Linked DNA regions of Homo sapiens: region 2 is linked to region 1. Evidence: fine-mapped expression QTL. A gene starts in region 1. The other region holds a variant in brackets. All regions are shown on one strand. Distances are between the middles of the regions.

The links. PIP is the estimated chance that this variant, and not a neighbour inherited with it, causes the effect.
Region 2: its variant is fine-mapped to the expression of FYN in B cells (Fairfax 2012, PIP 0.95). The same link has a PIP of 0.9 or more in NK cells, monocytes and monocytes after LPS.

The regions. Positions count from the first base shown.
Region 1 is chr6:111,871,939-111,874,843 of GRCh38, reverse strand. It overlaps FYN (FYN proto-oncogene, Src family tyrosine kinase), which reads left to right and starts at 1,392. Exons shown (of 14, transcript NM_002037.5): 1 at 1,392-1,876. LOC102724646 (a long non-coding RNA gene) reads right to left here and starts at 1,392. Exons shown (of 3, transcript NR_168402.1): 1 at 1,154-1,392. RefSeq lists silencers at 1,263-1,352, 1,473-1,722, 1,873-2,272 and an enhancer at 1,321-1,820.
Region 2 is chr6:111,660,104-111,662,935 of GRCh38, reverse strand. FYN (FYN proto-oncogene, Src family tyrosine kinase) reads left to right here. Exons shown (of 14, transcript NM_002037.5): 14 at 989-2,604. The coding sequence ends at 1,197. Among named protein-coding and RNA genes, the nearest start is that of TRAF3IP2, 56 kb to the right of the region's middle. RefSeq lists enhancers at 1-208, 209-890, 891-1,574. The variant C/G (reference allele first, on the strand shown) is at 1,101.

The sequences.
Region 1 (2,905 bases):
ACACAATTTAAACATGGTTTAATTTGTCATTTTGTTTAAGGAAAAGGAAAAAAATCCAGTAACCTCTGTATACTGTCACCTTGAGTTAGTTACTTAACTTTTCTTTTCCTCAGTTTCCTCCTCCATAGGATGCAGATCATTTAATAAATGTTAGCAACTTTTCTTAAAAAGTAGTGTGTACAAAAAGAAAAAAGTCAGCAAAAGGGACAGATTTTTTTAAACTACAGTAAAAACAAGTAGTGGGCCGGAAAGGCAATATTATAGATTTTGAGCACAGAAGCAGAAGCTGATTCACTTATAATTTCTTAGAACATTAGATTTGCTGAGGGGGAAGGTAGGGTTCTTGCCAAAATCATTAAGGAGAGCGATTCTGAGTATGCCTTAAAGCAGAACTTTCAGTAAACAGGAATTACCTATAAAGAAAATCAGGAAGCCAAAGTGTTTCTTTTTATGAAGTTACATCCTGCCATAGAAAAGCTGGATAGGAAATAAAGACCGATGCACTCCCAACTGTATACTAAACCGGCAATTATTTCATCAAGGGAAATATGAGCAAAAGCTCAGATTCAGTGAAGGGGAAAAAAACATGAGAAGTTTGAATGTTATGAGAAACCAAAGACAACCAATGACTACAATTAAACGAGGTTTTTTGGGGGTGGGGCGGGGAATGTACGAACAAATCTCTGTCATTTCAGGTTCCTTAGTCGCCGCTTGGCCCCTCCCCCTATTTCAGTAATACTTCCTCCAGACTTTTGCTAGAAAAAAAATATAAATGAGTGTCCGCAGAAATAGGGGACTGATAAAATGATCCTAATCTCCTTCTCCTCCTCATTGTTATTTGTTGTGCGTTTCCACGTTTCAGGACAGGATTCTACTTTGCTCCGTACTCTTTTCAGTTTGATCAAAGAAAACGCTGCTATCACCGCCCAATTTTCCATTTCATCCTCTCACCCTCAAATGAAAAGACACCAGAAAGGCAAGATAGCCCTGTCTCGAGGCAGTTTCCCATGGTTTTGGGGGAATGGCAGGTGCCAATCTGCAGCAGCAGCTGCAACCTTCCGCAAAGCGGAAACTGCAGTTCACACTCTCCGCTCTTTCTCCCGCCCTACTCCGCCACCTCACAACTCCACACAATCCTTAAAAACACACAGACCTCCTCCTCCAACCTCGCATTTTCTTGCACACCCTGCACCGCACGCACCCTGGGATGCCCGCTGCCACAGTAACGCTCAACCCACTCGGCGGCCCCACCTACTGCCGTCCCGCCCACGCCCCAGGCGCCAATGGTTGCGGCTCGCAGCTCCCAAGGGGCTCTTTGATAGGGCAGCCGGGCCTGTCACTCTCGAGGCGCGCCCCGCCCCCTCCTCGCTCCCCTCCGGAGCTGGAGGGGCAGAGCATCAGCAAGAGTAGCAGCGAGCAGCCGCGCTGGTGGCGGCGGCGCGTCGTTGCAGTTGCGCCATCTGTCAGGAGCGGAGCCGGCGAGGAGGGGGCTGCCGCGGGCGAGGAGGAGGGGTCGCCGCGAGCCGAAGGCCTTCGAGACCCGCCCGCCGCCCGGCGGCGAGAGTAGAGGCGAGGTTGTTGTGCGAGCGGCGCGTCCTCTCCCGCCCGGGCGCGCCGCGCTTCTCCCAGCGCACCGAGGACCGCCCGGGCGCACACAAAGCCGCCGCCCGCGCCGCACCGCCCGGCGGCCGCCGCCCGCGCCAGGGAGGGATTCGGCCGCCGGGCCGGGGACACCCCGGCGCCGCCCCCTCGGTGCTCTCGGAAGGCCCACCGGCTCCCGGGCCCGCCGGGGACCCCCCGGAGCCGCCTCGGCCGCGCCGGAGGAGGGCGGGGAGAGGACCATGTGAGTGGGCTCCGGAGCCTCAGCGCCGCGCAGGTAAGCAGGCGGCGGGGATGCGTCGCGGGAGGCCTCGGGGATGCTGCGGAGAAGCCCGGCCGCCGGCGCCCCCGCGCACGCCGCCCCCGCCGCAGGGCCCGGTGCTGCGGTCCCTTGGCCGCCAGGGCGCTCCGCGGGGCTGCCGGGGAGTCGGTGCTTGGGGTCTTCCCGCGGTTGCACCGGAGGACACCCCTGCGGGGTGCGGCCCCGAGGCAGCGCGGGGATGGGGACCCCATTTCCTCGCCCGCAAGCGGGCGCCGGGTGAAAATGGGAATTGGCTTGGGGGCGAGGCTGGCCCAGACTCCGCCCCCGCCCTCCTTTTGGGGCCCCCCGCGGGGACTGGGGCTGTGTGTGTTGTTTTAATGTCAGGGATGATGTAATCACTTAATAATTGATGCCCCGTGCTGCTTCCCTCCCCACCCAACCCCTGCCCCACTCCTCCACCTCTCGGCCTCCTCCCTCGGCGGCGGTCGCCTTCTCCAACCCATCCTCCTGCCTATTTCTGGCACCTCCCTTGCACTTCCCCCATCCTCCCCTTCACTCTTCCTGTGCCACCACCCACCCACCCTTCCCCTTTCCCCTGTGCTGGAGCCTTCCCTCCTCTTCCTCTGTCCCCCACCCCTCTGCTCCCTCCAGCTCTTTTCTCCTTCCTTTCCGGCTCCCTCGCTGGATTTCCTCTCTACTTCCCTAGATCCATGGCTGTTTTTGTTTGGGCTCCTCCCCTCTGTTATCTCTGCGGCCACAGGCGGAGGGGACTGGGCCAGAAGGAGGCCACCGAGCTTGGGCCCAGCAGAGATGTGCTGGGACTCACTGGGAAGAGGGATAATAAAATCACCCTTCTTGCCCCTCCTTCCCCCAATAAATCACACAGACTCGCCGGGTGTGTGAGTGTGAGTGTGACACAAAGAGCCCTTTCAGTGCATAGAGAGGAGACACACAAAGTACCCTAGGATAGGCACGATGCTTCTTGTCTCTCTTCCCTGGGGCTTCCCTTTCTTTCCCATGAAGCAGTTGATCTCTCTGAGTCTT
Region 2 (2,832 bases), 210 kb after region 1:
AGTGTTTCAACAGCTTCCCAAGAGTCAGAAAAACCTCAAATGATGGATGGCCTGGCTGAAGTCATCAGTAGAGATAGGCCCCGGACATGGTCTATCTCCCCATCAAATTCACCAAACCTCAGGGCACTGTGGGGTTGCAGGGCCAGACAGTGCCCAGCCACGCTGGCATGATGGCAGATCTCCAACAGTGGGGAACTAAGAGTTTGCCCAGGCATGAAGAAAACGAATTTATGAAGTTCATAAATGGAGTTTATAAATGCTATAAACAAGGGGCAGCATGCTTTCATTCTGTGTGGATTTTTTTGTCTGCTTTATTCATATATTGTTGTCAGTTTAATTGAAGTATAATCTACACACAATAAAATTCAACAATTTTAAGGATGCAGTTTATTGAGTTTTGACAAACATAAACAGTCACACCACCCCATACATAATATAGAACAGGGGTTGGCAGGTCTGGCTCCCAACCTGTGTTTGTTTTGTACGTTTTTAAAGGGTTGTTAAAAAGAAGAAGACAGGGATCATATGTGACCCGCAAAGCCAAAAATATTTACTGTCTGGCCTTTTACAGGAAAAGTTTGTTGACCCGTTGACCCTGACAGAACATTCCCATCCCACTTGGAGTTCCCTCTGGCCCCTTGGCAGGGATTCCTCCCCTCCCCCAGGCAGCCACTGATCTGCTTTCTATAGATGTAGTTGCGCCTTTTCTAGAATTTCGCATGAATGAAATCATACCGTATGTTGCCTGTTGTGTCTGGCTTCCTTCACTTATCATGTTTTGAGAGTCATTCTGAATTTTTCATGTCTCAGTTCTGCACTCCTTCTTTACTCCTGAGTAGCATGGCAGGGTTTGACTCCTGGGGGGATGGGAGTACTCCGCATGTTTTAGCCACATGCAGACGCAAAGAAGAAGAAAGGGGATCTGCAAGTGCGGCGGTCAGGGCCTGGATCCCCGGGGTGCCCACTCTCACTGCGCTTGTCTTTGCAGGCATGAACAACCGGGAGGTGCTGGAGCAGGTGGAGCGAGGCTACAGGATGCCCTGCCCGCAGGACTGCCCCATCTCTCTGCATGAGCTCATGATCCACTGCTGGAAAAAGGA[C/G]CCTGAAGAACGCCCCACTTTTGAGTACTTGCAGAGCTTCCTGGAAGACTACTTTACCGCGACAGAGCCCCAGTACCAACCTGGTGAAAACCTGTAAGGCCCGGGTCTGCGGAGAGAGGCCTTGTCCCAGAGGCTGCCCCACCCCTCCCCATTAGCTTTCAATTCCGTAGCCAGCTGCTCCCCAGCAGCGGAACCGCCCAGGATCAGATTGCATGTGACTCTGAAGCTGACGAACTTCCATGGCCCTCATTAATGACACTTGTCCCCAAATCCGAACCTCCTCTGTGAAGCATTCGAGACAGAACCTTGTTATTTCTCAGACTTTGGAAAATGCATTGTATCGATGTTATGTAAAAGGCCAAACCTCTGTTCAGTGTAAATAGTTACTCCAGTGCCAACAATCCTAGTGCTTTCCTTTTTTAAAAATGCAAATCCTATGTGATTTTAACTCTGTCTTCACCTGATTCAACTAAAAAAAAAAAAGTATTATTTTCCAAAAGTGGCCTCTTTGTCTAAAACAATAAAATTTTTTTTCATGTTTTAACAAAAACCAATCAGGACAGGTGTTTGTTTTTGTTTTCTTTTTTATAAATATGAATATATATAATATATATGTCCCTGTACATATACAATGTGGGTGCTAATGTGGAGACTGTGGCCGGCCTGAGCCACCAAGCTGCGGGACCCAGAGGGAGGATTTTACTGCAAGTCAGCATCAAAGCACCGGTGTTATTCTGAAAACACCAGTGGCCTCATTTTTGGCTTTTGCAAAGCATGAATTTTTTCATTTGGATTGCACTTTCCTGGTTCATGACTGTACCTGTAGGTGGTTGTTACTTTGACTCTTTTCAGGAACCACCCCCCAAGCTGAATTTACAAGTTCTGTTAGCACTATTTGCTTCAACTTACTGCGATTTGTTCTCAAAACTTAAAAATAAGCAAGCAAATGGCTGATACTACCAAGAGAACTGGAAGATGGATACCACACAAACTTCTTGTATAAAAATATGAATGCTGAAATGTTTCAGACATTTTTAATTTAATAAACCTGTAACCACATTTAAGTGATCTAAAACCCATAGCATTGTAGTCATGGCAACCCGCTAAACTTTCTCATGCAACTAAAATTTCTGGGGGAAATGAGGGTGGGGGTTGTACATTTCCCATTGTAAAATAAGTGTTTTAAATGTCCTGTACTGCTAACGAATGACTTTCTATATGTCCAGGAGTTCTCCAGTGGAATAACTATGCACTACTTTACATTTCATGGGGATGCACAAAAACAAAAAAGTATTACATTTTTAGTTGCTGTTTGTACCAACCTTAAATTACATATGTTTAACAACAACAAATCAAAAATCCTATTTCTATTGAGTTTTTAATACTGACTAGCAACTCTGAAGTCTTAATTCCTTTTTTGTTATGATTTATTTGTGAGTTTACATTTTTAAATTGTTTAACTTTCTTAATTTAGTAATTAAAAAGAGAGCATTTTACATTTGAATTTTTTTTTTGTTTATTTGTTTAAATCATGGAAGGTACTCGTAGTTCTGTGGCACATCTGTCCCACACCAGATGGTATGGAATCACCTGGTGAATTTAGCCTTTGTGCGATGACTTGCAAATGACAGAAACATTCAGAACATCTGGAGAGTTCTTTTCCCTCTAGAAAGGGTAGGCTCTTGACCAGCTATTTCAGAGGATCATTAAAGCAAAAGTAGGCATACCTTAC